Linked DNA regions of Homo sapiens. The protein of the gene in region 6 purifies or fractionates together with the protein of the main gene of each other region. This does not show direct contact. Each region holds a gene or a part of one and is shown on either strand. Other genes may lie near its edges.

Region 1 (4,728 bases), on a different chromosome or scaffold from region 6:
TGTACCCAAGAATGCAAATGTATCCAAGGATCAAGGTATAGCCACAGGCCACGAACCATTTTCTTGGTAGGTATCACACTGGCCGCCTCCACAGTTGAAACTACTGACTATACAATTAGACATGCTTAGGTCCTAGTATCCTTTAGACGATGCTCCTCACACTTCAATGTGCAAACGATTCACTTAGGGAGCTGGTTAAGATACAGACTCTGATTCAGCAGGTTGCTGTGAGGCCTGAGATTCTTCACTGCCAACAGGCTCCCAGGTGATGCTGATGCCGCCCACAGTCCATGGACCACATTTCCAGTCATAGTTTCAAGACACCTCAAATGAAAAAGTTCTAATACTCACTGATCAGATTGGTAGTGAGGGGAGAGAACCTCTCTTTTGCTGTGATGTCATTTAGGCTTTTCACTTTAATGGAACGCTTCACATAGGGATTCAAAACAGAAGCAGCCACTTTGGGTTCCTTCAGGATTTGCTGAAAGCATCAAAAAATAATTTCTTAAATTTTTTAGAGCACAAATGAAGGATGTGCCATGCACACACTTTCTTTCTTTCTTTTTTGGAGACAACGTCTTGCTCCGTCGCTCAGGCTGGAGTGCAGTGGCGCAATCTTGGCTCACACAACCTCCACATCCCGGGTTCAAGCGATTATCCTGCCTCAGCCTCCCGAATAGCTGCACCACCATGTCCCGCTAATTTTTGTATTTTTAGTAGAAACGGGGTTTCGCCATGTTGACCAGGCTGGTCTTAAACTCCTGACCTCGAGTGATCCACCCACCTCGGCCTCCCAAAGTGCTGCGATTACAGGCATGAGCCACTGTGCCCGGCCATACAAACACTTTCTTATGAATTAAATATTTTATGAATTAAATTAGCACTGCCGAAGAACATATGAAAAAAAGATTATAATCAAACAATTTTCTGACTGCCTTTCAGAATACACTGTGCACTGCACCAGGATTTTATATAGAATGATGTTCCTCAAAAAAATTTAAAAATACTGTACGAACTTTCTTAAATTTGTTTTTGCTTTTCAAGAAAGATTATAAAACACTAAACAGCCAAACCTTCATTAGACTGCATACTTTAATATATTTAAGAGAGGAGTCGTCTGGTTTTCTAGCAGTGCTATTTCTAGAGTGCAGACCTCACAACTGTGCTCTGACCACAGAGGCCTCCGCACCGCTCCCTTGGAGGGGCCCTGCCTCTTACAGAGTCCAGGGAACCCAGCAGATTCTGTGAGGCCTCTGGTGCTGCCAGAGCGGCCCCAAAGAGTCTGGGAGACAGAGTGGACAATAAAACAGGAGCACAACCATCATGGGAAACAACGTTCTTCTCATTTTGTTGTATCACAGTGTCTGAATTCAGTGACCAAGTGCAGCTTCCAGCATGTTGCTCCAGAGTTCCAACAAACGAACAGCAGTTTCCAGTTGAGCACCTTCAGTTAACACACCTCTCTATGCTTTTCAATTACGCTCCTAGCACCTCCTCCCAGGCTCCTGGCCAGAATCCTGCCTCTGATCCAGGATACTGGTCAGATACTATCATCCAATGCTAACATTTCCACTTGAGTGACCCCACAGAAATGACATTTTTCCATAAAAAATGCAGGAATATACAGATTTAAAGCATTCTGGAATTTGGGTTACCTAGTTTTTCATGTTTATCTGTGTCTCCTGCATCATCCAGAGGACAGTGCGTATCCTTGTATCATCCTTCCCTCTTAGTGCCAAAACCCTGCTAATATTCAGTGTCTTAAGGTAATTGCCTCCCTTTTTCTCCATGTCTCGACTGACTTCCAGGCTTTAGACAAACTCTATTCTAATATCCACAATCCAAGTAATTCTCTCCATTGTAAACATGATTGTTTCCGTTTAAAATGGGCATAACTGACAAGTAGCAGACAATAACCATCACCTCCAAAAATGCCTGTGTGAGACCCCGTCTGTTCCTGCATGCCCTTCCCCCAAATGTCTCCAACAACAGGGCTGGGCTCCTGGGCTCTGAGAGAATCATAAGAGTTTATCACACCAGCTAAGACCTTAAGCATTATCTGCAGAGATAAATGGATCAAGGAAGGAATATGGAGCTAAAATTATTCTGCCTGTTAAGACGGAAGTTCCAATAGAAGCTCAAGTGAAAAATGAATAAAACATAAACAGTACAGAACAGTAATACTTATAGACTATACATACGATGATTAATATAGAACGTAAGTATTATTACTCTATACAACTGGCCTATGAATTGTTTTTTCTAAACAATAAAAACTTGCAGATATGTGAATTAAAGAATGAAGAATCTTAAAATGAAGAAAAAACCAAACTTCCTCTGAAGAGGCTATATACCAGACTGCGTCTCCCTCACCTTTTTTAATGCAGACCTTACTGCCAGTGGTGGCGCTAGAAAATCGAAGGAAGCAACAGAATGTGTAGAAACTTGTTAACTAGAAAATTCGGTGAAAACGAAAGCAGACATTCTCCTATTCAGTTACAATGTAGGCTTCTGGTAATACGGTTTATTTATTCTGCTTTTCATGTTTAAAAAAAAAAGTAAAAAACATCTTGCAGCAGCCTCACAGTCTTTGCCTGTCAGTCCTCTACTACTACTGGGAAGCCCATGCCCCTTTACTAACTCTGCTGCCCAGCGCGCCCCACCCTGTTATTCTTCCCTCACATTTTGGGAACAAAATAATTAAGAGGTTTACCAAAACAATGAAAAGGTCTACATGGTTACTTCTGGGGTTCTGGCAATTGCAAAGGCATCTCTACCAAATGAAAACAACCTGTAAGACATATCTGAGCCTCCTCTGATTCTACAAGCATAGAATATGGCAATTAAAACCTGAGGAAAAGGTTTCATGAAAACAAATTCTCAGTAAAACCAAATCACAATATATTCTAAACACCTAGCCCATAAGCATAGGTTTTTTTTTTTTTTTTTTTTTTTTGAGACGGAGTCTCGTACCGTCCGGGGCTGGAGTGCAATGGCGCGATCTCGGCTCACTGCAACCTCGGCTTCCCAGGTTCAAGCAATTCTGCCTCAGCCTCCGGAGTAGCTGGGATTACAGGTGTTCACTACCACGTCCCGCTAATTTTTTGTATTTTTTAGTAGAGATGGGGTTTCACTATGTCAGCTAGGCTGGTCTTGAACTCATGACCTCCTGATCTGCCTGCCTCAGCCTCCCAAAGTACTGGGATTACAGGCGTGAGCACTGTGCCCAGTTATAAGCATAGATTTTTAAAGGTAGCTTTTAAATTCTCTTCTGAAATAGCAATTTTCCTAAATTACCATCCATTTTAATCTTATATTTCTACCTTTTCTTAGCCCCTAATCTTGGTTCCTAATATTAATATCCTTATATGTATCTGTTTGTTCTTTTTATATGTCTTATAATAAAAACCCAATATTATTACTAAAAATGTGTTTACAGACAATGGCTTTTTCCCAGTTTTTTCTTGTAGGATACACCTCATTAGGAATGCACAAACAACCAAAGGAAAAAATATACAAACAGGAACTTCATATGTAATGAATAGGAAAGCTACTTACTGCTACTCTCAACAACTCCTTTTCTACTTGCTCCAGCTTATTCTGTTTTGATGCAGCAGAATAAAGAGCTGTGGCATAGCGACCTTCAATACCGTATACCTGAACAGGAGGCTTTAAAAAAAAGGTGAAATAGGAGAGGAAAGAAAAAGGAAAATCAGTTAATAGTATACTCTCAAGAGCAGAATTTAAAATTTATATTTTAAAAAATGTATCTCTTTAACACAAAACAGTTTAAATATGTCATTCAAGAGCTGTCCTAAATGGCAATTTGCAAATAAATTAGCGATGTTTCCTTGGTCAGGTCACTCAATCTTTGAGCCTCCAATTCCTCATCTGTAAAATGAGGGGCTTAGTAGGCATTGTCTAAAGTCCCTTCCAGGTTTACATACCTTTATCAATTACTTGTACTTTAATTTTGAGATAAGCTTATGTTTCCTTTGAACTCAGTAACTATTTAGTTTCAAGTATGGGAGGTTGTGAACACTGATAGACAGTTTCGAGTATGTTAGAGCTAGGAAAACAGGTGTTTATGAAACACACAAGTATACTTTTATACATTTCATACTAACACTACACATTTTCCCTTACATAGCCTCCCTATCGATGTTCAGTGTAACAGAGCCCTTTGGCAGTTTACAAAAAAACCTGATGCTTGAATTATTTTTCACAATAAACTATAGACTTTTTTTCTACCATCAATGTATGACTACATGTTCTTAGTGGTGCTGTATGGTTGTAGTGGGAAAGCTCAGGCTTGGATGAGAAAGATTTAGTTCCAGTCCAGCTCTAGGACTAAGCTGAGTAACCTCAGGTAAATTTTCCCAGGGCCTCAGTTTCCCCTTTTGTAAAATGGGAAGACCAGTTACTCCTTAACACTGTTATGAAGTTTTAAGGTCTCACATGAAGGACGAAATGATTTTGATCATTTGATTTGAGATTTAGGGCTGGTAATGAGGACGGGACAGGATAATTATCTTCCTAAATTCCACCTGACGTGGGCTCATTAAGGACACAGACCTGGTATGATCATCTTTCCTTTACACGATTTTTCCAAGGGGCGGACTGGCTCACTGTTGATTTGGTGGGGAAAAGCGTGGGTAGTATAGTCTGCCCAGCACATCTTAGAAAAGTTCCTGCTCCTTGACAGTTGAACCAATTCTCTATCACACA
Region 2 (3,396 bases), on a different chromosome or scaffold from region 6:
AATGCTGATGCTAAGATGCTGCCCCGATGACAGTCTTGCAGCAATGATGGCCAAAATCACCGCTTCCAGGGGCAAACATGTCTCAGGAAACTTGAGGGCAATGCTTCTGTCCTGTGTCCTATGCTAACGAGATGGCCACTCTGGTCCGAGGCCTGGAGCAAGGGGCTGACCTCTGCATGCCATGAACAGGCACATGGGGGGAAGCTGGGGATCCCGCCAGCAGTTCAGACAGAGGCTTCAAGTCAATCTAGGGGCTTGTTGCAGTTATTTTTATTTTATTATTATTATTATTTATTATTTATTTTTTATTTTTTTGAGACAGAGTCTCACTCTGTCACCCAGGCTGGAGTGCACTGGCATGATCTCGGGTCACTGCAACCTCCGTCTCCCGGGTTCAAGCAATTCTCCTGCCTCAGCCTCCCGAGTAGCTGGAATTACAGGCATGCACCACCATGCCCAGCTAATTTTTGTATTTTTAGTACAGATGGGGTTTCACCGTGTTGGCCAGGCTGGTCTTGAACTCCTGACCTCAGGTGATCTGCCCGCCTCAGCCTCCCAAAGTACTGGGATTATAGGCATGAGCCACTGCACCCAGCCTCATTATTATTATTTTTAGACAGGGTCTCACTCTGTCACCTGGGATGGAGTGCAATGGTGTAATCACAGCTCACTGCAGTCTCAAACTCCTGGGCTCAAGTGATCCTCCCACCTCAGCCTCCTAAGTAGCTGGGACTACAAGCGTGCACCATCACGCCTGGCTGATTTTTAAATTTTTTGTAGAGACAAGTCCTCGTTATCCTGCCCAGGCTGGTCTCAAACTACTGGGCTCGAAGGATCCTCCCACCTCGGCCTCCCAAAGTGTTGAGATTATAGGCATGAGCCACCAGGCCCTGCCTCTAATTTTTTTTTTTTTTTTTTTTTTACTTTTATTTGCTTTTTTGTTTTTTGCTTTTTTGAGACAGGGTCTTGCTCTGTTGCCCCAGCTAGAGTGCAATGACACAATCATAGTTCACTGCAGCCTCAAACTCCTGGGCTCAAGGGATTCTCCCATCTCAGCCTCCCAAGTAGCTGGGACTACAGGCACAAGCCACCACACCCAGCTTGCAGTTATTTTTAAATGCTGAGATTTATGATGCGGGAGGAGGGGAGGGCTGCCCTGGAAAGCCAGAAGACCATCAATTCACACCTGGATTTCCAGCTTTCCCTTCCTCGTCGTCTCCTCTCAAAACACTTGTGCGCGCTCTCTGGTGTCAAGGGCTGAGGGCATCAGGACACCCATTCCTGCCCAGGCCTCACCCCCCCTCGCCAGGCTAGCCCCTTCCGAGACACAGGGCTGAGAGCAAGGCCAAGGCCTCGGGTTTCGACCAGATGGCGGCTTCCTACCTTACTCCTGAAGAGGGGCTTGGCTCCAGGCCCACAGTACTCGTTGTAGATGAGCTTGAAGAGGAAGAGGTGGAAGAGGGTGATTAGGGAGGCCACGCTGAACCAGAAGAGGAAGGGCAGCCCGGGGTCCTGCTGGGCCATGTGCTCATCATGGGCCAGGATGGCCTTGAGGTGCAGCGTGTGCCGCAGGTCCTGCAGGTGTGTGAGGTCGGTGGAGATGTAGAGCAGTGGCGTGATGGGCTGTGTCACCATGACCGAGAAGGTGTGGCCCGTGGGCGCCGAGGTCAGCTCCACTGGCTCGTCCAGGCAGCCTGCCTTGCAGGCATAGATCTTGACAGGCTGGCCACGGGACTCCACGGACACGTGTAGGTAGGGCTTGCCCTCGGCATCCGCCAGCACGGCCAGGTTGATATGGTCGTTCTTGTAGCGGATGCCATGCAATGCATAGCTGTTGTGCAGCACGTCGGGGTCGGCCTGGAACTGGAGGTGGTTCTCTGTGAACTGCAGCCCCCCAAAGCTGAGCACCATCCCCTGCAGGATGCCTGGGGCACCCACCTTCACCAGCCCCTTGCAGCCACGCTTCTGGAGGGTCAGCCTCCACAGGTCAGAGAGCTGCAGGATCTGCTGGACGGAGGACAGCCGCCCCGGCCACAGGTTCTCGGCGTGCATGGTGGCGTGCCCGCTGAAGCAGTGATCTTCATAGTTGAGCGTCGACTCCATCTGGTCTCGCTCCCTGTGGCTCAGGGAGGGGCTGAGCAGTGGGGCTGGCGAGCAGGAGAGCATGTAATAGAGCGTCAGGTTCACGGTGAGGCCAGACGGCGTGTGGGTGTCAGTGATCTTCTTCATTTCCACTCCTGCAACACCATGAAAGCGGCATGTTAAGGGGGAAGGACAGCTGGGAGGCAGAGCATACGAAATAAAGACCAAGGGCAGCAGAAGAGTGAGGTGTTGTGCCTTAATGATAAAGACAGTGGTGCCCATCTCCCTAAAGTATAGAAGAAAGTCAGCCTGTCTTGTTTACACGACCAACTTGAGCCTGTGGGCCTGAAATCTAGAATCCTGTTAAAAAGCAGCGGGGCCTGGTGCCAGAGCCCAGAGGAACACAGACTTAGCCAGGACTTGGCACCAACCCTATGGTCAGACATCCTGCGCCAGATCAGTCACCAGTGCTGAGGCCAGTCTCAGGCCACTTCTCCTCTCTGTCCTTTCTCTCTCCAGTCTTGTAGCTTTATGTATGTATGTATTTATTTGTTTATTGAGACAGAGTCTCACTGTGTTGCCCAGGCTTGAGTGCAGTGGAACGATCTCAGGTTACTACAGCCTCCGCCTCCCGGGTTCAAGTGATTCTCCCGTCTCAGCCTTTGAGTAGCTGGGACTACAGGTGCAGGCCACCACCCATGCCTAAAACAGCCCTGGCAGAAGCATTCAATAGACACTTGCTGAATAAACACGTGCTGGGCCCCTTTGCTACTGATGGATTCAACAGCCCTAAGATTTAAAAACATACACACACACAACTTTGTTTCTGTGAAGATGACCATCCTCTCGCCGGGCGCGGTGGCTCACGCCTGTAATCCCAGCACTTTGGGAGGCCAAGGTGGACGGATCATGAGGTCAGGTTAAGTTTTGTATTTTTAGTAGAGACAAGGTTTCGCCACGTTGGCCAGGTTGGCTTGAACTCCTGACCTCAGGTGATCCACCTGCCTCAGCCTCCCAAAGTGCTGGGATTACAGCGTGAGCCACCGCGCCCAGCCAGCACATTCTAGCCTAAAAAGATGCCTTATTTTAATTTTAATTTTCACTTTTCTAATGTCTGTCTTCCTCCCAACCAGAATTTAAGCAAGCACCATGAGAACAGGAACTCTGGTTCCCATCTGCACCCCCCCATGCATAGAACAGCCCTGGCAGAAGCATTCAATAGATACTTGCTGAATGAACTCAACTCTCTGAGCAACCAAACACAAAGGTTCAGACAATTGGAACCCTGGAAACCAAAACCCCTCTCTCATCCAG
Region 3 (4,728 bases), on a different chromosome or scaffold from region 6:
GGCTTGACAGTCCTCTGGCTTGACTGGTTAATTCATACATCATGTCATCGAATAATTTCACAGTCTGTAAAAACAAATCAAGTAATAAACAGGAATAAGAGAAATCACTAGAAAAGACAAGACAAAACTTTACAGAGAAAACACAATACGATAATTTGATTTTGCACTAGTAACATCCACAGGCTATCATCTAGCTTAACAATTGTACCTAATTAAGCACAAAATACAGAGAAAAGGTATTTTTACAACATAATCCCCCCAAAAGCCCCAAACAGAAATTTATTTTCCATTTCTATGGTTTGAATCTATTTAATAGCATCAATTTTTTTAAAAAATCACTCAAAGTTCATGTTTTAGAGATGCAAAAAATAAAAGTATTACTTTCGCACAATAAATTTGACTGTCTTGAAGAATCCACATTCATACAGTCATTTACAAGGGTATTTTCTGGAAGGAATTTGCACTGAATCGCCTATTCACTACTCACTTATTTTCTAACCAGTTTCCTTTTGACCCAATTCAAGCTAACCTTCCTGAATTAAGGGTATAGTAAATGACCTTACAAACAAGCTTTTTGTCTGTGAAAAGTTAGCCACCCTAGATCTTAATACTTGGATCTTTCTAACAATTTAAATGACCTAAACATTATAAGAATAGCAACACAGTCAACAATACAATGTAGCTAAAGAAAATACTGTTTCCCATAGGCCTGTTAACACTCAACATCCATTTTCATCTATGTAACAGTTGAATCTTTTTCTGGTGGTCAAGAACAAATTCTAAGAAATATTTCAGATAGAGAATCATCAAGTGACTATGAGTACAAGAAATTTGAAAGATTACGATTCAAAGCTAAAGTTAGAAACCCATTTCAATAAGAGATTAATTACAAATAATGTTTCATTTTGGCACCAAAGTATCTTTAGTTCCCTCCATTTAAAACAAAAAAGGTATGCTTGTGCTTTTCAGAGAAAACATATACCATATATATCTAAAATGTAATAATGTATTCTGTGAATTTAATGTTTTCTCTTAGTTACTTGATTTTGCCAATATTCCAGCTTTTCTTTTTTTTTTTTTTTTTTTTGAATTAAGGGTTTCACTCTGTCACCCAGGCTGGAGTACAGTGGCTTTAAAATACAAGAGCATTTAAAATTGACTACAAATAATTTAAATTCAGTTAGTAAAGGAACCACACAATCTGAAAATATAAGTTCTTTTTTTTTTTTTTTTTTTTTTGAGACGGAGCATCGCTCTTATTGCCCAGGCTGGAGTGCAATGGCACGATCTTGACTCAATGCAACCTCCGCCTCCCAGGCTCAAGCAATTCTCCTGTCTCAGTCTCCCAAGTAGCTGGGATTACAGGCACCTGCCACCATGTCCAGCTAATTTTTTGTACTTTTAGTAGAGACGAGGTTTCATCATGTTGACCATGGGTGGTCTCGAACTCCTGACCTCAGATGATCTGCCCACCTCAGCCTCTCAGAGAGCTGGGATTACAGGCATGAGCCACCGTGCCCAGCCTGTAACAGTTTTTAACTGCCTAATGATCACACTAACACCATTATAGTCTCACATGAGATCTACTTACTCCTTATTTTTATTTTGAATATATTTGATATATTAGAAAAAGAGAGCCATAATTAATAATAAATCATCTAAGACTGAGGCTAGATTCCTTATAACATGTATTTTCAGGTAATAGTATTATACCTTTGGTAACACTTGTGAAAAGAAAGTCTGTTCCAATGTCAGGTGGTTCATATGAGGTAAAAACATTTCTACAATAATTTTCAAAATTTCTGTAAAGCAAATAACAAATTTTATAAAAATATTGTCATGTCAGTCAACAAAGGCCACTGCCCTTTATTAAATGCAAGAATACTACCAATCTAAAGCTTGATACACTTTCAAAATACCACATTCTATACAGAGAAACTATTAAGTAGTAGCCAAAAAAAAAAAAAAAGAGAGAAAGGAAACGACCTACATATCCAACAATTGTGGACCAGTTAAATAGGTGTGTGTACATCTATTGAATAGGATCTGCCATCATTAAAATGACATTTTAAAACATGAAAAATGTTCACAATGTAGTTAAACAAAAAGTTTCCAAAATATAACACCAATTTTAATGTAGATAAACATGTACGAAGAATGATGGATAGGCTGGCAGGAATATACGGAAATGAGATGAGACTGTTCTCATCAAAATCTTAACCATTTCAGATTAGATGTTTTGTAATCTTTTCTGTTTTTCTATATGTTTCATATTTTCCACAATGAACATGAATCACTTCTATACTCAAGATAAAAAAATAATTTACTTAAAAAAAATTATGCCACGCATGGTGGCTCACGCCTGTAATCCCAACACTTTGGGTGGCTGAGGCGGGAGGACTGTCTGAGCCCAGGAGTTAAAGACCACCTGGGAAACATGACAAGACCTCATGTCTACCAAAAAATAAATATATAAATAGAAAATTAGCCACGCATGGTAGCACGCACCTGCGGTCTCAGCTACTTGGAAGGCTGAGGTGAGAGGATTGCTTGAGCGTGGGAGATGGAGGCTGCAGTGAGCTAGCTATGTTCGCACCACTACACTCCAGTTTTGGTGACAAAGCAAGACCCTGTCCCCCAAAACAAACAAACAAAAACACAGGCCAAGCATCATGGCTCAGACCTGTAATCACAGCACTTTAGAAGATGGAGGCAGGAGAATAGCTTGAACCCAGGAGTTCAGGCTGCAGTGAGCTATGATCGCACTACTGCTCTCCAGCCTGGGCAATAGAGTGAGATCTTGTCTTGAAAACAAAACAAAACAAACTCTGGGGCCAGGCTCAGCGGCTCACGCCTGTAATCCCAGCACTTATGGAGGCCAAGGCAGGAGGATCACTTGAGCTCAGGAGTTTTGAGACCAGCCTGGCCAACATGGTGAAACCCCATCTCTACTAAAAATACAAAAATTAGCCAGGCGTGGTGAAGCATGCCTGTAATCCCAGCTACTTGGGAGACTGAGGCAGGAGAATCACCTGAACCTGGAAGGTGGAGGTTGCAGTGAGCAAAGATCACGCCACTGCACTCCAACCTGGGTGACAAAACGAGACTCCAACAAAAACAAAGGAAAAAAAAATTAGGTCCCATTACACAACGTAGATTCAAATTATAAATGAATATTCCACAACCAAGTGAACTCTAAATAGAAAAGCTAACTCAAAATATGAGTAAACTGAGCAGTCTAAACTCTCTTCTGACTAGAAGAATGAATCTCATCAAGTAAGACTGATGAAGACATGAAAATGAGAAAGTCAACTTCCTCCAAATGGTAAATTTGTTATCACCTAGACAATCAGCTTTTGGCAATTTAGAAAGCATTTTCTAAATGACACTAAACATGTTAGAGGCTGATAGCTATTCAGTAGACTGCATATCATGTTTTATATAGGTCTAATCGTAACAACTAACGTTTAATATTTACAATTTGTTTATACATACATCATCAACAAAACACTTTGGTATTTATCCAAAATGTAATTTAAAACTTTTAAGTGCTGGAATTTGAATGAATTTGTTCATTTCAAGTAACTGAAGGTTATAAAGGCTGTAACATAGAGAACAGTTACATTTCAAGGGAATACAAAACTGTAAGAACACATCTACCGAGGTATGTGGGGACTCGGACCTTAACATCAAAGTACATCATACAGTTAAAACAATTTTACTTACGAATATGCTCAATCCAACTGTCAGAATGTTGAGACAATGAGTAGGATAATTAAGGAAGATACTAGTATCATAGTAATAGGGTATTCATTACTCAGAACAAACCTAAAAAAAAAATAAAACCCTTTTGAAATTTAAGCAATGACTCATAAGAGATTGGAATTGGACTCAAATTACTGGCTTAATTTTGCTTTTAAAAACTTAAGATTTATTAGGTAAACAGTATTGTGAAAACACATTAAAGAAATATTTTGAAAATTGCCCAGGGACAAACTTGCCTTTTCAAACTATGCATAGTCATGAAATATTTTTGACAGATGAGAAACAATGCTACAATAATCCACAGGTTTATGATTTATTTATTTATTTTTTTTTAGAGAGAGGGTCTCGCTCGGGGCCAAGTGGGGTGGCTCACACCTGTAATCCCAGCACTTTGGGAGACCTAGATGGGCGAACAAGAGGTCAGGAGTTGAAGACCAGCCTGGCCAGTATGGTGAGAACCCGTCTCTACTTAAAATACAAAATAATTAGCTGGGCATGGTGGCGCACACCTGTAATCCCAGCTGCTCAGGAGGCTGAGGCAGGAGAATCACTTGAAACTGGGAGGCAGAGGTTGCAGTGAGCCAAGATCGCGCCATTGCACTCCAGCATAGGCGAGACTCCGTCTCAAAAAAAAAAAAAAAGAGAGACGGTCTTGCTGTCACCCAGGATGGAGTGCGGTGACATGATCACACCTCACTGCAGCCTCAAGCTCCTGGGCTAAAGTGATCCTCCCATACCAGCCTCTCAAGGAGCTGGGATTAGAGATGCACACCACCATGCCCAGTTTGTACTTCCGATTTCTATTACAAGAAATTTTTCTTTCCTCAACATTTCTATTGTACTTAATTTATACCTAAGTCACTCATCACCTTCTATCTTTTTTCATATTACTTACATACCTATCTTACCAACTTTATTTGACTGAAATTCTTCTGCACATAGCAGCTTACAAATACACGACAA
Region 4 (4,728 bases), on a different chromosome or scaffold from region 6:
GGAAGATGGCTTGAGGCCGGGAGGCAGAGAATGCAGTGAACTAAGATGGCAGCACCACTGCACTCCAGCCTGGGCCATAGAGCCAGACCTTGTCTCAAAACAAGTAAGTGTAAAAATAAAGAGAAAATAATTCAAAATGGAAAGCTGAAGGACAAAAGGGCAAGGGCATTGCCTCATGAATAGGAGGAAGTGATACGTGTGAAACTTGGTGAGATTATTGACAATCTCACATTTGAACACGGGAGTCATCAGAAGGACTTTGCCTTGCTCTTCCTTGCCATACTTCACCCTTGCCTTGGTGTTTTCTGGAGGGTCCTGATGTTTCTTCCTCTGCCCAATACAAAGGGGAGTCTAGTGATTCAAGAACTTAAGAGCACAGAGAGGTGAACAGTAACTCGTAGCAGAGGCACTCAGGAATCCTGTGCACACACAGATGAACATCATGGGTTACAAATGAAGTCTTTTGGTCAAAATTAACTTTATTTTTCAACTTCATAGGGATGTGATAACAAAATTGGCACACACAAAAAGAATACTGATATTGGGCCTGATTTAAAAAATGCCTCTGGCCAGGTTGTAAAAAAGTGAAAGTAACAAAGATAAACATAGAAGTTGGAGTTGTAAAAAAGTGAGTTGGAATTCATGCTGCCATGATCTACTTGACCAGAGGCAGCTTTTCCTCTCTAAGCCTATTTTATATCTGTCAGTGGATTTGAGATCACTCATTTTACCATTGTAACATTCCGAGCCTTTTGTCACTGTGTGTCCCTTTGTGGCCATGTAAGAGACCACACTGCTGTAGGCTGAGAAGGCCACAGTGGTTCAGGTGCTTTGAGGACTTGGTCTTGGCTCAATAGAGCCTCACTGGTGTTTGCTCAGATTGGGCAGCCTATGCCCAAAGCTACTTGGCTAAACAGGCTGGTGACACCACACCCAAAAGGTGGCAAAGAATAGGAATAGGAAGGATCAGCACCTATTTTGGAGTGAGGAAGCCAATGGAGGTACAACTCCTCAATTCTAAGTTTTTGTTGTTTTTTTTTTTTTTGAGACAGGGTCTTGTTCTATCACCCCAGGCTGGAGTGCAGTGGTGTGATCTCAGCTCGCTGCAGGCTTGACCTCCTGGGCCCAAGTGATCCTCCTGCCTGGACCTCCCAAAAGTGTTGGGATTACAGGCATGAGCCACTGCATCCAGCTTGCTTCTAATTTTCCTACCCAGGCTGTTTTAAACCTAGTTCTCCAGCTAAGTAAAATGTGCCCAAATGGAAAACATCTAAATCTTCTGCAGCCCATTCTTCCTGTGTCTTTGTGTTGACAAACCTCTAATCTTCCATGTCTTTGTGTTGACAAACCTAACCTTCCATGTCTTTTTGTTGACAAACCTCTAACCTTCCATGTCTTTGTGTTGACAAACCTCTCCATGGGTGGTGCATCTGACCCTATCCCAACATGCCTTAGGACGCTCATCTCCTTGACTGTCTGCCATCCCCTCCCAAAACTAAGTGGAGGCTCTGTCTTTTCCTCCTAGTTTGAGGTTCTCTTCTCCCAGTGTCTAAAATGATCAATATGCCTAGAGTAGATGCTGCTGAAGAGGCAAAGTAGTAATCCTGCCACCTGGAAGCAAAGGCTGTGGGTTGGAGGGGGAAGCGGGTGTGAGGGCTGATGATAAGCCCTAGGAGGCTCCTGAGTCATATTCCTATGTTTGCTCTCTGGAGAGATGGGCTAAACTGTTTATCTTTTAAAAACCAGATGATTAAAAAGTTACATTTTAGTATTATACTGATAGGAATATAGGATAATCTCTTCTAAAGCCTATTTGGTTTCCAGAAGAGTTAGATACTTGAACAAGAGTGGACAGAGTAAGATACCTAGCTACAGCAATAGAAATCACAAACTGTTCTGTGGTTTTAATCTTCCTATTTCTGATTTAGAAGTATGAAGTGATCATATTTAATCTTTCTGCTCCTGCTCAAAAATAATTCTATAACATCATTTAGGTTATAGAAAGTTTCTACTTATAGCCCTTACATTCTTTATGACCGAAATCTGTGTCTTTCCTCATGACTGATAATTATCTCCCAATTTGGTCACTTCTGCTAATTGCTATTTTATTAAACTTGAAATTTTAGGTTGGGAAGCAAAGGGAAACCACTGGGCATCCCCTTTGTTTCTAGGGAGAAAAGACTAACTTGTCCCATCTGCTCACTTGCTTATGGAGCTAAAAGACCCCCAGTCCTAGAAGTGTTCTGTTCCTGAGGAGTGGTTAAAGAGGTGAAAAGAAGAGGTGAATTAAAAGATGAAAGAGCTTTTTAAATAGCCAGCAACTCTCTCTACCATCTGTTTTGGTAAGAGCTAGCACCTCTTGTTCTCTTTAGACCCTGGAGGGAATAAACCAAAATCAGTGGTTCCAGGATCCTTCAGAGCCAAAAGACCCCAATACCACAGTCTTGACCTTTGCCCTGCCTGCTTCTGAAACTGGAGAATGGCATCTCCCAGCAGCCTAAGGCAGACATAGGTCATACCTATCCCTGGGCAGCGAGCTGAGCTCCCACAGACTGAGTTGTGCTGGATCTCAGAATTCTAAGCATTAATGTTTCCTTGCTGTTATAATTCTTGCTCATCAGGTTCAACTGCCTTATCCCTCTGAGGTTTGCAAATGAGGATGGAGAAGCCACTGAGAAATGGACCAGTGAGCTGAGCTCACCTTTTATATGAGTGGATTTTTTTTTTTTTTTTGAAATGGAGTCTTGCTCTGTCGCCCAGGCTGGAGTACAATGGCGTGATCTCAGCTCACTGCAACCTCCACCTCCCCGGTTCAAGCGATTCTCCTGCCTCAGCCTCCTGGGTAGCTGGGATTACAGGCGCGTGCCACCACGCCCGGCATGAGTGGAATTTTAGTGTTAAATCTCTTCCTGACTCTGGGTTCAGTAGGTCCCTCCTCTTCTGTTACCCTCCTGGTTCTCTCTGTTCACCAACTACCTGCATGTGCCAAACTAGAAAAAGGAAATAATTTACACCCCTGCCCCAACAGCTCCTTCCCTCCTAGGGACTTCTGTGTCCACCCCCCACTTTGGGTCTTAGAACTGTGGCTAGAAGATAAAAGGGAGGAGTTTGAGTCAGAGGCTTTATGTCCCCAAACCCAACCCCCTCTGAGTATTAAACTATAGTGGCATTGTCCCTCAAGCTCCCCTCTGCCTTGGCTCCAGAGTCTTCCTCCTCTTCTTCCAGACTGGGCAGGGTGGCTGTTGTTATTGGTGAAGATAGGCATCTAGCCAGAGCTGCCCTGACTCCTTTAGTGAGCTGCAGGGACAAAATGGGGGCAGACAGTGAGGGAGACAAGCAGAGTTGAACCCACCGGAGATGGAGCAGTGAGGTTAAGGCCTTCTTCCATCTGGAGGTTTTCCTCCCCTCTACTTTAGAGAAAGCTAGCTTGGGCCATGGTACTGAGGGGAACCCCAATGAGGGCAAAGGCCTGACCTGGCCACAGGTCCAATAAAGAATCCTGCCTTTGCCATGGTGAACTCCATCCCACACGACTGGGAACACCTTCTGTTCACTCCCCACCCTACATGTCATCATTTCCATTGCCCTGCCCTCTTCCCTCCCTACTAGCCATCTTCCTGGTCTCAGATACTCACTGGATGATGTCGGCGAAGGCTGACAGCAGGGGCTTGGACTGGTACTCTATGCCATGCTTGGCACACAAGGACTGCACCAGGGGAGCCACTTTGTGGTAATTGTGTCGAGGCATCGTGGGAAAAAGACTTTAGGGAGAACGGGGGAGTCAGTGGTTCCTGCTTCTCTGCTCCCACCTGTACCCAACACTTACACCCTCCCCAGGACCCTGCTTCCCCAGGCTCCCTACTCACTGGTGCTCAATCTGGAAGTTGAGGTGTCCACTGAACCAGTCATTGAAGGCAGACTTGTGGACATTGCATGTGGCCTGGAGCTGGCGGAAAAGGTCAGGGGAGAGCATGTTGAATATCAGATGGAAAGGCCAGCCCAGCATTCTCCAGGTAAAGCTGGCTGAGGAAGGGACATGAGACTGTCTTGGTCACTCCCTTCACATGGTTGCAGAACAAGAGCCTCAGGCTAATGAGAAAATGCTGTTTGGGGGACTTTTTGTTTTTGCTGTTTTCACCTACGCATCCTTTTCAATAGTTGTGTTATGCTCCAGTCTTCTGAGTGACTGTCCCTTACCTGGGTGGAAACCCAGTCCATGTTCCGGTCATGATCAATGTGCATGGGAATATGGTTCATCTGTGTCACCCACACAAACCAGTTGCTTTCCAGGAACCTGTTAGATGTATTACACAGACAAAAACAGTACACACAGAGCCCAGAATTCTGATTCCCCCCTCAGATAACTGCTCCAGCCTGTCTACTTTCCCAAGCCAACTCCTGAAACACCCACTGTTACCCAAAGCCCCAGCACGGCCCCTAGACCAGACTGGTCACTCCCCAACATTTCCTTCACCAGTCCCTATCCGCCCCCACCGAATACTACCTGACTATGAAGAAAAGGCCCAGGAAGGCTTTCAGCCCCAATAGTGGCACATAAGTGAGGAAGAAGCGGACGTAGAAGGTAATCATCCAGGCCAAGTCCTATAGTGAGAAAAGCAGCGAGCATAACAGTCACGAACAACTCTTCCTCTTCCTCTCAGCAGCTCTTTGTTTGCATGGTGCAGCCATTCTCCTGGTTATCCAGACTCACTCATCTTCAGCTTCTCA
Region 5 (4,728 bases), on a different chromosome or scaffold from region 6:
TAAAAAAATTAGCCAAGCATGGTGGCATGCACCTGTAGTCTTAGCTACTCAAGAGGCTGAAGTGGGAGGATTGCTTGAACCTGGGAGGGAGAGAGCGCAGTGAGCCAAGATTGTGCCACTGCACTCCAGCCTGGGTAACACAGTGAGACCCTGTCTCAACAAAAAACAACAGAAAAACAAAAACGTGTATTGTGTGTAACTAAAAAATTGAAGACAAAGTCATGCAGTATTAAACTATTACCTAATTCAGCAAAAAAGTTGTTCTAGTTGTTGACGGATGAGTTAAGTTTTAACTCCATTATTTCACATTTGCCTTCCTCATTAATGTAAATGAATATCAACCAATATTCATGTTAGAATACACTTGGAGACCTGGTAATGTTAGTAAGCATTACCTCCAGGTGATTCTTATCCATGCTAAAGTTTGAGAAACACTGGCATAAATCACTCTTCTTACACAAATCTAGTGATGAAAATATTCAGCTGAAGGCTAAAATTAAATGGACCTGGGCTTTAAAAACCTATAACAAAGTAGTTTCTGAAAACTGATCAAGAGAAATGAACTCTAGCTAGAAACCTAAGGGCAGCGTGCTTTTTAATCACAACAAATTTTTCATGTTCTTTAAGAGATAAACTTCCATTTTAGAACCCCATTAAAACAATTTTTTTTCTTTAGTAATAATAGGTTTCCCTATCTGGACAATACCAACACCCACAGTGGAATGAATTTGGTAGTATGTTTTGTAGAGCCATATTGATTTGGTCGATCTGAACTCACTGAACCTACTGCAATGAGAATGGATAGAAGAAATGAAGTCACAATGGTTCTGCTATTCAAAATACAATAAAAAGGCTTCGGAGTACTAGACCTAGTATTGAAAGAAGGCTGGGGACAAAATGCCAGTGTTTACTTGGGCTCTGAGCCTGGGACTAGATCCTCTCTTGAGCTTCAGATTCTGGTTAGACTTGAGCTAGTCATGTTCTATTTTCTCCTTCTCAGTTTGGGATCTAAGTCCACAGACCTGAGTGATTTGGAGTTTGAGGGTCAGAGCTTAGAAGGATTTGATAGAATGTCTTAGTAGGTATTAGGGAATATAATAAGAGTTGTCATTCAGTGACAGCCTATTATGTACCAGGCAGGTACTACACTAGGTAACTCATTTACTGGATCTCCTTCAATTTTTACAACTCTGCAAAGTAGTTCTTATTATCCCCATTTTACCAATAAACAGACTAAGTGAAATGAAGTTTCTATGTACCTCAGTTTCCTTATGTAAAATGAAGAAAACAGTTATCTATCTTAAAGGATCATTATCATAATTAAAATTAATTATTCACATAAACTACTCAGAAAAGTGCCTGGGACATCAAGATACGTTGTCTATTATCATCACACAATTATAAGATTTAAGTGGGATTTAAAACAGGTGTGTTTGGTATCAAAACATATATTCTTTTCACATAAAGCTGCCATTGGCTGCTTTGTTATTATCAAGACAGGAGCTACACAGTTCTCAGAGTTCATCCATACCTCCTTTTCTCTTAAATTATCCTACCCATATTCAATTTATTTTGTTGAAAGATCTGTCCTTTTACTTGATTTTTTTTAATCCTTAAAATATTAGGCAATAATTAGAAGTAAGTTGTGGTTACATTCAGCAGCTTAAAAAAAATTCTGATCACAAAGAATCGGAAATTAAAGTAAGTCGTAAACAAGTGAATTCATATACACATAAAGTAGTAGAACAGAATATCCTGCACCCCCAGCTGATTTTTCTATGTGGTGTAACAGTTCTCTGAAAACTTGAAGGGAAAAAAGAAAATAAAGAATATAATTTCTTCATGCTACAAGGAAAGATTATTTCGGCAGAGATTGTTTTGAGATGGTCTATATGTTATCAATGTAGTACTACAGGCCTTACAAAACTCTCTCCAAGCTTTTTATTCATTCAAGTACCTTTTGAGATGGACGGTAACTGGAATCAATGCCCCGAGCCAAAGATTCATCAAGCAGTGCTTTTAGCTTTTCAGCAGAATCTTTACTCTTTGAATGCAAGAAACCTAGTGCTTTCAAAAAAATGGGATCAAGTTCCAAGTTCACAGTAGCAGCCATTGCAAACGCCTGAAGGAAAAAAAGAGAAAGTAATCTAGAAGACAATGCACAATTATCTATGTTAAAGTTTTACTTTTCTGTTTTTTAATTTGTAATAGATAATACTGTACACATGATATAAAATTTAAAATCACCAAAAAGTTATTACAAATAAAAGTAAATTTCCTTCTTATTCCTGACAGGCATTATCTAGTTCCTTCCCCCTGAAACAACTAGCAGTATCAGTTTTCTGTGTATCCATATCGATGGTAACGTTTTAAATCCAGGTAGGCCTCTCCCTGCCACAGAACTCCTTCCTAACTGTGTTTTAAAAGATACACTTCGCAGTTTCAGTACATAGAACTTGATGGGTTTACGTCAAGTTTACTCTGTATCAAAATTTCTTCTCTCAAACCTTATTTCCATAACACAAGGGAAGACTTAGTGTGCAGGTGTTTGTGTGTGTAAGGGCTATCGTAAGAGGGCAATGGTGAAAAGGTATATTAAGTGATTAGCTATCATGGTCACTGCTGCCACTTTTACCTCAACTCTTTTTTTTTTTTTTTCTAAACTCACCTCTTCAGTTCTCTGCCCCAACCCTAAATGTCTCAGAAAACATATTAATGATAACCTTATTTGATCACATTTAGATTGTGGTATCTCATGCATTAACCTATTTTTAAAAGTAAGGTCTCTGAGGGATAATATCATATCTACTTAAAACACACACACACACACACACACACACACACACACACACAGAGCCTATGATGCTTTGTGTCCTAAAGAGCTTAAAAAATAGCCAAGATGGATAAAGATATACATCAAAGGCTTATGAAATTCCACAATACTAAAAAGTTTTGTTTTTAGTTAATACCAATGCTATCATGTGGTTCTGCTTCTGGTTGTCACTTTTTCAAAGACCTCTCCAGGCAAGAAATTATCAAAATAAAAATGTATTCTTTGTGTTCAATCCTTTGATCAATATACTATGGCTTGAAATCTTCTATCCTTGAGGTTAATATTGTATTAATGCAGCACACTTGCATTGCTATAGTTAGGGAACTGTCAGCAATTCCACAGTTATCTCCCATTTTCAGGGGTTTATAACACCATTAAAACTTGCTGTAGGTTGAATCCTAGCATATGAAAGCACATCTGAAAATGGATTTTGTTGTCCCCTCCCCTCCAGCTTCACTCCTCATCCTTCTCCACATCTGACAAGAAACACACATACACATCCCTAGGCTTTTTTTTTTTTTTTTTTAAGTTCCCAGGAAGGTATTAGTTATCTACCTGATAACTACAAAATTACTGTCGAATTCTGTACTGTACTAAAATATCATCTGAATCACCCATGGAAAGGAATCCAAAGGCCAGTACTATAATGAAAAAGTAACCTTATCTCAAACTGTTGTATTTCTAAGAATTTAACAAAATTGAAAAGCAGCCTCTGTCACTTCTTAAAATTATATTATTATATACATCACCTCTACATAATGATAGGTACAGAAAAATTATTTTAAAATTTACTCATGGGGCTGGTCACCATGTACGTTCTGAGGAAAAAATAGCTCCTTAATAAAATTTCCAAGATTAAAAGGGTAAACCTGCCATTCCCCCAGCATATACAAGGGTAACAGCCTAATCTCTTTTTTTTCTTTAAATTCCACTCCTGTGACAGTTTACTAATCTTTCTACTGATTTTATTTCATATAGGTAAAGGAAATAGCAGTTTACTTATCCAGATTGTTATAAAACAATTTATTTTATTGGGTGCTGACCAAAGGGTTGACACCTAAAAGAACCCTTGTAATATATTAGAAAAACCATTTCTTGAAATTTCTATGCTGAAAAATGAAAGCCAAGTATTTATTGCTATGTATTTCTACAATCACAGGTAAGAGGTTTACATTACAGATTAGGTGACAAGAGTCAGCACCTAGATTACAAGACTGCGGAAGTCATCAACACCAACATTCCAGTTGGAACCTTGGAGTCAGTTCTTTTTATGCAATCTTGCCATTATAAAACTTAACAGGCTTTGTACCCCTCCCCTAAATTACTAACATGGCCCTTTGACCCAGTGGTCCCCATGGTGGAATACAGAGAAAAAAATATTAACTTTTTAATTTATTTCTATTTCTTTTTTTTTTTTTTTTTTTTTTTGAGACAGAGTCTCGCTCTGTCGCCCAGGCTGGAGTGCAGTGGCATGATCTCGGCTCATGGCAAGCTCCGCCTCACGGGTTCATGCCATTCTCCTGCCTCAGCCTCCCGAGTAGCTGGGACTACAGGCGCCCGCCACCACACCCGGCTAATTTTTTGTATTTTTTAGTACAGACGGGGTTTCATCATGTTAGCCAGGATGGTCTCGATCTCCTGACCTTGTGATCCACCCGCCTCGGCCTCCCAAAGTGCTGGGATTACAGGCGTGAGCCACCGCGCCCAGCCAATTTATTTCTATTTCTATTTATTTTTTAAAAATCTATTCATATACAGAGTGATAATAGTGTGTTATATAATTGATCTTTAACCTCAAGGAGCTTTATCTTCAGCCAGTGAAATCTGAAACTTGCCACAACTATTGTCCTCTTTTATTACAATCAATTCTCCTTTCTGACTACAATCTTCCATTA
Region 6 (4,258 bases):
TGGTATCTTTGCCTCTTGTATGCTGTTATCCCACTATCTACATCATTGTTATCGGACCAGAATCCCACTGAAGACCAGGTGTATATATGCACCTGAGGATGTACATGTGTATCAAGAACATATTTCCAGTAAGTTACAGCCCTAGTTTCAAAACTCTAAGCTGTGAAGACCTTTGCAGGAAATAGGATTCCCCTGTAGTGCACTCGGTCTATGGGCCCCTGGGGACTGCAGGGCTGCCCATTGTGGGTCTGTGGGGCAAGGACTTGCACAAGGTGCTTTCCAACCTAGCAGCAGCGCCCAAGCCCACAGGTCAGACGAGCATCTGGGTCTGCCTTTGGGTTGGCAAACAGCTCTCTGTGCAGAGAGGTCTTGGCAGAGGTGGAGGTGGTGAGGGCAGTGCTGGGAGCCCAGCCCCTCTCTGAGCCCCTGCCCAGCTGACTCGTCTGTTGAAGTCTCCGCCATTCTTGTGGCTCCAGGTAGAGTTAGAGAGGGCACAGCAGGAACTGGCCATTCTGAGAGCACTCTTTCCAACCACTAGTAAGGACATGCGCAAGCTGGGGATTCGCTCATTGTGTGGCCTCAAGGGGGTAGCTGATTGGCATGGTTTAAATGAAAACTCTCAATAGGAAATATTGCCCCTGGAGGTGTTTACCTTAGCAGATGAGATTTAAGGGGCTGTGCCACTGGCCCTGGAAGCACACAGGTGGTACAGATGAGGACACCAGTCCTGCACCCTGAAACTCTCCTGTCTGGACGGAGAGTTCAGACAGGTTCAGAACAGAGATGGCTCTGGCCAGCAGGAAGTAGAAGCAAGTGGCACCTTCTCTGTGCCAGCCTTCTCTCCTAGCTGGACCCTAGCAATCATCCCCCACACCAAAAACACTATTGCCTGAAAATTTTTTTAAAAACCATGCAGTGTGCTCAAATGATTTTTTCTTTTTATATCATTTCAAACAAGTTAACCTGGTAGCTTTTGCTTTACAGCAGCACTCTTTTTCTGAGCATGTTCATGCAGGTGGCCTGTGTGTGCCATATATATCCATGAATTATTATCATGTGTGCTATTCAAGTGCCAAAACACACTTTGAAAACTGAGACTTGATGCATTTTTAGGAAACAAAAATCTTTATTAAAAAAAAATAACTTACAAATTGAGAGAACTCTCTGAAATGCAACTGTTCGTTGTGTGTGCAGATTTGCAGTCCAGAACAGTTTTTTGTTTATTTTAAAATGTAACTTTACAATACTATTAATGTCACAAACTGCATTACAAAGCAGTTTTCGTTCCATATCCCGTGCCGGTACAAAACACCACACAGATATAAAACTATGGTAAATAAAACATTTCAGCCAAGACTGGCATATATTTATATATTTATATATATTTATATATATATAATTTCAAAACAGCTAACAATTAGTGTCATCCTTAGTCAAAACTGAAGTCACGCTAACCTTAAAACTACAACACTCTGAATATATGTCAGCACTATGCCTCCCAAACAATATTTAAAATATATTTAACTTTCAAATACATTTATAAGGTACACCAATAGTGAGAAAATAAAGTCTTAAAATTTAAATACAAATCACCATATAAAAAATTCAGGAAACACAGAAAATCCTATCTTACAGAAGTCCAGGCAAGCCTGTCCTCAGCTGGCTCTGACGCACAGCACTGCTGTGCGACACAGCTCTGCCTGTTGCAAAACTGTCAGCACGCACAGCCAAATGACAGCTGCGTCATCAAGAGAAAGAGAGAATGGATGCAGGGGGCACGTGCTCCCCTCTTCACTCTACTCAAGCATCAAGACCCGAAGCTACTTTGCTTTGCTCTAGAAAACCATAGGGCCCATCACCCTGTTCAAAAACAAGTAAACCCGTCCCAGAGCCTCTCCAGGGCAGATCATTTGGTGCTCTGCTCCAAGGCAGAGTACTCCGTCTCTGAGACTCTGGAGGCATCGATGAGCTTGGTGAGCCCTGTTTTGGCCGAGTACTTGAAGATGAAGGCCTTCATCAGCTCGTACCTGTAGTTGCGATTGATGAAGCTGTAGAGGACAGGGTTGACGCAGCAGTGCACCAGCGACAGGCACTGTGTGACATGCAGGGCCGTGAAGAGGGCGTGCTCCAGCCGGCAGGTGAAAGGGATGTAGTGCAGGATGGAGAAGATGTCCAGCAGCACCGCCACGTGGTAGGGCAGCCAGCAGACAAGGAAGACCACCACGTAGGAGAAGATGATCTTCCGGCTGCTGTGCTTCTCCTGGTCACTGGACGCCGAGATGGCTCTGGCCAGCAGGAAGTAGAAGACAGCGATAATGGAGAAGGGAACGGCAAAGCCCAAGACAACGGAGACCAGCTCCATGCCGATCAGCCACTCCTTGATGCTGTGCTCGGGGTAGAAGGACCGGCAGTAGGTCTCATTGTTGGACGCAGACGTGACGGTCTTCAGGTAGTAGGTGTCAGGCAGAGACACGCAGAAGGCCAGCAGCCACACCAGGATGCAGACGACACGGCGTACCATCTTCTTCCTGCTGCTGGGGGTGTTGGTGAAGTAGGTGATGGAGAGGTAGCGGTCCACGCTCATGCACGTGAGGAAGAAAATGCTGCCGAAGAGGTTGATGGAGAAGATGAGGTGTGTGACTTTGCACGTGAGCTCGCCCATGGGCCACTGGTTGTGCTGCACGAGACTGACCACCCAGACTGGGATGGTGAGGACAACCCACAGGTCGGCAATGGCCAGGTTCAAGATGTAGCAGTGCGTGTCATAGCCTGTGGTCTTGGCCTGGATATTCACCCAGACCACCACGGAGTTGGCAATCATGCCGATGACGAAGATGAAAATGTAAATGAAGGAGAGCGTGTAGAGCAGGACGCTTTTGTTGGGCATGTTGGGACACATCACCGTGTCCACCACGATGCAGTCGCTGCTGTTGCATGGCCAGCTGATGTCCGAGAAGTTCCCTGGCTCTGAGTAGTCGAAGAGATGCAGATCCATCGTTCTGAGGCGGGCAATCAAATGACCTATGAGAAAACCAAGCAAACAAAAAAGATGGAAGAGGAAAGTCACTTCATTAGGAAAAACTCAAGTTTCAGGCAAAAATGCTTTTCCAAGGCCCTGATAGGCTCAGCTGTTTGGGTTTAGCTCTGTAATGTCTTTGCAAAGAAGGGAGAAAAAAAATTCATAATAAAACTCTCCAAAACAAAATAAATCATACTCTGAATCTAAATCCATGTGGTGCTCCAAGACAGAAACTGTGTTTGCTTTCTCCATCTTTTCATGGCTGTGTTCTCAAGACACCGCCAGCATGGCTGTGCCCAGTGTGTGAAATCAACACAGTACAGGGGCCAAAGAAACGTCAGGCAGCTGAGCCCCGGCCACCGCGATGCTGATGGCCTGCTCACTCTCAGCAGGGGACAGTGGAGCCATTTTATCTAGGTCCCCAAAGAATGGCAGGGTTGTCCTCTCCTGGCACTGCTGTATTACAAGTGTCCTGCTTTGGTGTCTTAATGAAAGCATTTCAAATCCTCCTCCAAATTTGCATTTATAATGTGACTCAGCACTTTTTACTTGTCTGCTAAATTCACATATAAACCTGGGTCTCAGGCGGCCCCAGTGTGCAGTCATAAAGCCTCTGGAAACACAGTGAGCCTACGCAGGGTGCCCCACAGCTTAACTGCGCCCCAAACCTGAAGACTCTGGGTTGGCCGTGTGGTTTTCAACGAAGGGCAACCAACCAGCTGTCTCAAGCTTTGGGTCAGCACCTGTTTTTCCATTCCTTTATTTGTTCAACTGCTTCAACAGCAAGGTGTGCCAAGACTCAAAACACAAAAATCACCACCTGCTGCATTTCAGGAGGGCTGACCATTTTCCCAACTGTTTTCCCTGCTGACCTGAGGTGAGACCAACACTCCATCACCATTTCACTCCCAGCCAGAATTCAGCCACGGGGTACCATTGTTATCTGGCACTGATTTCTTCAGATAGACTGACAGGGGCTGTCTTCTACTGTCAGTCCGCCCATGGGAAGGCCCTGAAATCCCTCCAGGCCACAGTCCTGGGTCAGCAATTAGCCCTGCCTGAACCCCACTGTAAAATGAAAACCTCAGCCCAAGGATGCACTGTTGACAGTGACATAGTCAGGTGGTTGCCCTTCCCCCTCACCTGTCCCAGGTAATGACTGGCCTAGAGTCAAGACATTATTTACCGAGTTCATTTAAAGTGGATTCCAGGTTACATATGAGAATTTCCTGGAGGATC
Region 7 (4,690 bases), about 34 Mb from region 6:
TACTCCATGAATATTCCTGGTTACTCTAACTACTGAACTGTTTTTATTATTTGTTTATTTTTTAGACGGAGTTTCACTCTTGTTGCCCAGGCTGGAGTGCAATGGTGCGATATCAGCTCACCACAACCTCTGCTTCCCGGATTCAAGCGATTCTCCTTCTGCCTCAGCCTCCCGAGTAGCTGGGATTACAGGCATGCACCACCACACCCAGCTAATTTTGTATTTTTAGTAGAGACGGGGTTTCTCCATGTTGGTCAAGCTGGTCTCGAACTCCTGACCTCACGTTATCCACCTGCCTCGGCCTCCCAAAGTGCTGGGATTATAGGCGTGAGCCACCACGCCCGGCCAGTTTTATTTTTATTTTTGAGTTTCTCTTGCCACAAGGAGAGCTTGAAAATTGCAGTTCAAAGCAAAACGTAAAATGCGTTACAATCTCACTTGCCAGTTCTGTGACTGGGCAGAGTATTTAATTTCTCTTTCAGTTTCTTCATTTATAAAAGGGGGATAGTAATACATATTATGTAGGATTGTTGTGAGAATTATCAACAATGTATGTAAAATAACTAACACAGTGCCTGGCATATAATACATGGTCAGAAAATAGCAACTATTATACTAAATTTAGTTTTTTTTTTTTTTGAGACGTAGTCTCGCTCTGTCGCCCAGGCTGGAGTGCAGTGGCGCGATCTCGGCTCACTGCAAGCTCCGCCTCCCGGGTTCACGCCATTCTCCTGCCTCAGCCTCCCGAGTAGCTGGGACTACAGGCGCCCGCCACCGCGCCCGGCTAATTTTTTGTATTTTTAGTAGAGACGGGGTTTCACCGTGCTAGCCAGGATGGTCTCGATCTCCTGACCTCGTGATCCACCCACCTCGGCCTCCCAAAGTGCTGGGATTACAGGCGTGAGCCACCACGCCCGGCCTATTTATTTTTTTTTATTTTTTATTTTTTGATGTATCATACTGAGTTATGAAAGTCATATTAGATAGAACATTTACTATTCTAGTGCAAACTCCCTAATTATCATACTAACAATTTCTGGTGACCTCTTAAAATAAAAAAACACAATTACTATTGTCATTAATATGATCTTTAATAAACGGAATAACGCACCATTTTACAGCAAGCCTTTTTAAACCTAAAGAACTGCCTTAAAATCTCCTTCTCCAATGTCTCTGTATCAATACAATCTTTTTATTTAGGTTTATATATATCAAAGCATTTACTTACACTTATTCATAGAAAACTCTTTAGTGGCTTAATGTCAGCTTTCATAGTGGCATCCATAGATAATACAAAAGAAAAGTGATTTGCTTTATTTTATACTCACACTGATCCATCAAACACAACTTATACAGCATAGCAAGGCTTCAGACAGCTTATACAAAAGCAAAATAACTGAAATTATTCATAAAGTCATATATGATAGTCTATCTGTAATGTAAGAGCAAAACACACCAACAAAAGATACCCGTTAACAAGAAAGAGGGTTCTGAGGAAGTGCGAGTATTTTCTAGCCTTTCTTTTTCCGGAAAAGCATCCTCAGAAGTGAATACTCCGTAGCTTATGTTTCTCCTGTCCATTCAGAAAAAGCATGACAGCTACGCATCTCCATGTTTCAGCTACTACAACACCCTAAGAGTTAGTGTATTTTACAATTATCCATGTATCTTTATTTGAAAAATTATCAGCAAAAAACTGAGGATGATTCCAGCTTACATAAACACTGATACAATATAATCTCTATGGAAATGAAATAACAAGGCATACAAAAATTGCTTAAATAAATAAATGTGGCCAGAAAAAGAAAAGCCACAGAAGTCAAGCAATTCAGTGTTAAACTGGGACCTATCTTTGAATTGCATCTTTTAGTAATTTTTTCTTACTGTTAAGCTTCTTTAAAAATATGTTTCCTTTACATACTTACGAGGATTGGTAACAAGGTGAAGAGCCTGAGACAAGAGACTGGTTACAGATAACTTCCTAGGATTTTAAGTATATAGCACATCAATTTAGAGCTTGAACTTGTCTGATTCAAAGAAAAATTCTGTTTGACAATGTGATAAATACAGGTTATTTTCTCAAAACCATCCAAGCTATTACTAAAGTTATAAAATATTTAGTTCACTTTTAGAAGGCTTTATAACGTTAAATTGTCTCTTGAGAAAATCCTATCTGACAGGAACTACTTTACCAAGTTCCCTTATTAAAAAACAAACAAAATGAAACAATTTGTCCCATATCATGTATGGTCATTTGACCAAAGAACAGAAATGTAAGTCGTTTTAAGTCAGTGCTTCAACTCTAAAGGCCTAAATTTGTTGCAACATGTAGCCAATTAGTTGAGTCATTCCCTCTGTTCAGTAATTACAGAACTGGGCAACTTTTTATAATTAATGAAATCTGATATTATATCTATGTGAAAAAGTCAAATAAGATGAAACATTAAATGAACTGTGCAACAAACACTTTAAATATTCAACTGGATCTAATTGCTTACTTGCTAACAATTGAACTTTTTCAGTGTACAAAGGGATGAAAGGGGCCCTGAGTTTTTAAGTAACATGATGTCTGTAGAATGCATCTAAAACATGAAGATGTTTCTGAAATCTAAAGGTATAAATAAAATGGATAAAACCCACATGTTGCCTTTTAAAACTGAAAACCAAATCAAGTTGTAGTTTCAAATACAGTAATTTGCTTAAAAATTCAATCATAAACTGGACACCCTAATGATGTGATTTTGTTCTGAAGATTCCTTCTCTCTTACCCAGATTTTAAAATGGGTTTCAAGTTGTTTTAAAAATGTGTATGTTCACAATGTTTAATAGTAACACTACAAACATCACAGTAATAACAGAATTGGACTTTTAAAGATACGATAGATTTATTTTGAGCCTAGTTTTAATATACAGCATAAATTCTTCTGAAGTACTTTCAAATGTATCTGCCATGAGATAAATTTCTAGGTTTTTCTCTATATGCACACTCAACTTAAATCAGTCACCTAAAAGTTAAATGAAAGTTGTATAGTCCAGTCTATGTTGCAAAATAATAAGTATTTCAAAAGTGGTCTACAAAAATGTCCATAGATAATACCTGATTAATGTAGGGTTTGCTTTTGAAAGTTAATCTTGCATTTAGTGTTTAATATTTCATACAAAAAATATGTAAAAGGTTGTGGCTCAATCATAAAACTAAGCTTGCTGCAATATGTTAAAAAATTTTAATGGCAAAATGATATACAATTCTGTGTGCATGGCTTTTTAGTTATAACTAATGAGAATATAAAATCATAAAATTCCACAATAGAAAATGTTAGATAACACAAAAATTAAGTGCCGATTTGCTGGTGGTCTGATGGTTGAATCCACTTTCAAATAGAAACATCTTAACTCTCGATTCTATCAAACTATCAAACTATTACTTAACTGGAGTAATGAATTTGAATATAAAAGAAAATATAATTCTATATTCTTAAATATAAAGTCATTAAAATAGGACTGAGGAGAAGAGCTTAAGCAATTTTGTCTGAAGAATTGAGACTTAAGTGTTCATTGAGAGGCCTGAAGCATACTGAAGACTAAGAATATTGGGGATGATGACCAACTGCTCTTTTTTGTCCTACTGGGTAAAAGAAAAAAATTTAAAATCAAAGAGGAGGGAGACAGAATAGATATGAAGAAAACTTTCCTGACACAGACTACAAATCAGATAACTGAGGTTTGGAGTAAGTCAGACATAAACTATGAGGTGATTTTTTTTGTTTTTTTTTGAGATGGAGTCTCACTCTGTAGCCCAGGCTGGAGTGCATTGGCGCGATCTCGGCTCACTGCAACAACCTCCGCCTCCCGGGTGCAAACGATTCTCCTGTCTCTGCCTCCCGAGTAGCTGGGACTACAGGCGCGTGCCACCATGCCTGGCTAATTATTTGTATTTTTAGTAGAGATGAGGTTTCATCGTGTTAGCCAGGATGATCTCAGTCCCCTGACCTCGTGATCCACCGTCTCGGCCTCCCAAAGTGCTGGGATTACAGGCGTGAGCCACCGCGCCCAGCCTAACTATGAGGTGATTTAAGGAAAGTAATGGGAAGGTGCACTTAAATGCCCTGTGATTCCCTCTTTTCTTTATGTTAATCTGGAAACTTGTAGAAAAGCCTTCTCTTGATAACAAATTTTATGTAACTAGCTCAAACAGTGATTTGCCAGATTTACTTAATCAAGGAATATATTTAGGAGGGAATCATGCAAGATAGTTTTGGGTAAAGTTTGCACAGTTCATAATCTAAAAGTTAAAATGCAACCTTATATGCTGGAGAGTAAACTGCCAGTAACAGTACATTTAGAAACATTGCATTCTGAAAAAGTCTCCTGGGGTTTATGTGGGAGTGTTACAATTTCCAGAATGACTGGTCTAGATAATCAACATGTGTGTCCGGATTTTAACTTTAAGAAGTTAGATGGGAAGATAAAGCAATATATGAAGCAATCTGTGAATAGTTACATAATAACCTGCACATAACAGGTAGTAAGTTCAACATAACTTTATAAAATGTTGTATGGAAATATAATCTCAAATTCTAGGAGTTAATGATCTCCAATAAAATATTCATGTCCATAAATATGAAAAAAGGAAAAGCTCATTGAAATATTTTTCCATTTTAAATGACTTTCAGGAGGCACTTACAAAGAC

Evidence for each region.
Region 1: the proteins of ACKR3 (region 6) and ATP5PO purify together in Homo sapiens (affinity purification with mass spectrometry; 4 studies listed by BioGRID and IntAct, with this or other methods). This does not show direct contact.
Region 2: the proteins of ACKR3 (region 6) and KIAA2013 purify together in Homo sapiens (co-immunoprecipitation; one large-scale study listed by IntAct). This does not show direct contact.
Region 3: the proteins of ACKR3 (region 6) and FIRRM purify together in Homo sapiens (co-immunoprecipitation; one large-scale study listed by IntAct). This does not show direct contact.
Region 4: the proteins of ACKR3 (region 6) and FADS1 purify together in Homo sapiens (co-immunoprecipitation; one large-scale study listed by IntAct). This does not show direct contact.
Region 5: the proteins of ACKR3 (region 6) and INTS12 purify together in Homo sapiens (co-immunoprecipitation; one large-scale study listed by IntAct). This does not show direct contact.
Region 7: the proteins of ACKR3 (region 6) and BMPR2 purify together in Homo sapiens (co-immunoprecipitation; one large-scale study listed by IntAct). This does not show direct contact.

What each region holds. Positions count from the first base shown.
Region 1 is NC_000021.9:33,908,731-33,913,458, forward strand, and holds part of ATP5PO (ATP synthase peripheral stalk subunit OSCP, mitochondrial precursor), read right to left. Parts: intron 3,670-4,728; coding exon 3,559-3,669; intron 482-3,558; coding exon 352-481; intron 1-351. UniProt on the Homo sapiens protein: Subunit OSCP, of the mitochondrial membrane ATP synthase complex (F(1)F(0) ATP synthase or Complex V) that produces ATP from ADP in the presence of a proton gradient across the membrane which is generated by electron transport complexes of the respiratory chain.
Region 2 is NC_000001.11:11,921,253-11,924,648, forward strand, and holds part of KIAA2013 (uncharacterized protein KIAA2013 precursor), read right to left. Parts: intron 2,238-3,396; coding exon 1,384-2,237; intron 1-1,383.
Region 3 is NC_000001.11:169,797,957-169,802,684, reverse strand, and holds part of FIRRM (FIGNL1-interacting regulator of recombination and mitosis), read right to left. Parts: intron 3,829-4,728; 5' UTR 3,767-3,828; coding exon of another isoform or gene 3,727-3,766; intron 1,803-3,726; coding exon of another isoform or gene 1,780-1,802; coding exon 1,714-1,779; intron 65-1,713; coding exon 1-64. UniProt on the Homo sapiens protein: Regulates PLK1 kinase activity at kinetochores and promotes faithful chromosome segregation in prometaphase by bridging kinase and phosphatase activities.
Region 4 is NC_000011.10:61,799,166-61,803,893, forward strand, and holds the end of FADS1 (acyl-CoA (8-3)-desaturase), read right to left. Parts: intron 4,603-4,728; coding exon 4,505-4,602; intron 4,295-4,504; coding exon 4,198-4,294; intron 3,947-4,197; coding exon 3,867-3,946; intron 3,762-3,866; coding exon 3,636-3,761; intron 3,298-3,635; coding exon 3,246-3,297; 3' UTR 462-3,245; downstream 1-461.
Region 5 is NC_000004.12:105,697,893-105,702,620, forward strand, and holds part of INTS12 (integrator complex subunit 12), read right to left. Parts: intron 2,380-4,728; exon of another isoform or gene 2,123-2,379; 5' UTR 2,114-2,122; coding exon 1,958-2,113; intron 1-1,957. UniProt on the Homo sapiens protein: Component of the integrator complex, a multiprotein complex that terminates RNA polymerase II (Pol II) transcription in the promoter-proximal region of genes.
Region 6 is NC_000002.12:236,579,203-236,583,460, reverse strand, and holds the end of ACKR3 (atypical chemokine receptor 3), read right to left. Parts: intron 3,022-4,258; 5' UTR 2,996-3,021; coding exon 1,907-2,995; 3' UTR 1,107-1,906; downstream 1-1,106. UniProt on the Homo sapiens protein: Atypical chemokine receptor that controls chemokine levels and localization via high-affinity chemokine binding that is uncoupled from classic ligand-driven signal transduction cascades, resulting instead in chemokine sequestration, degradation, or transcytosis.
Region 7 is NC_000002.12:202,564,132-202,568,821, reverse strand, and holds the end of BMPR2 (bone morphogenetic protein receptor type-2 precursor), read right to left. Parts: 3' UTR 1,073-4,690; downstream 1-1,072. UniProt on the Homo sapiens protein: On ligand binding, forms a receptor complex consisting of two type II and two type I transmembrane serine/threonine kinases.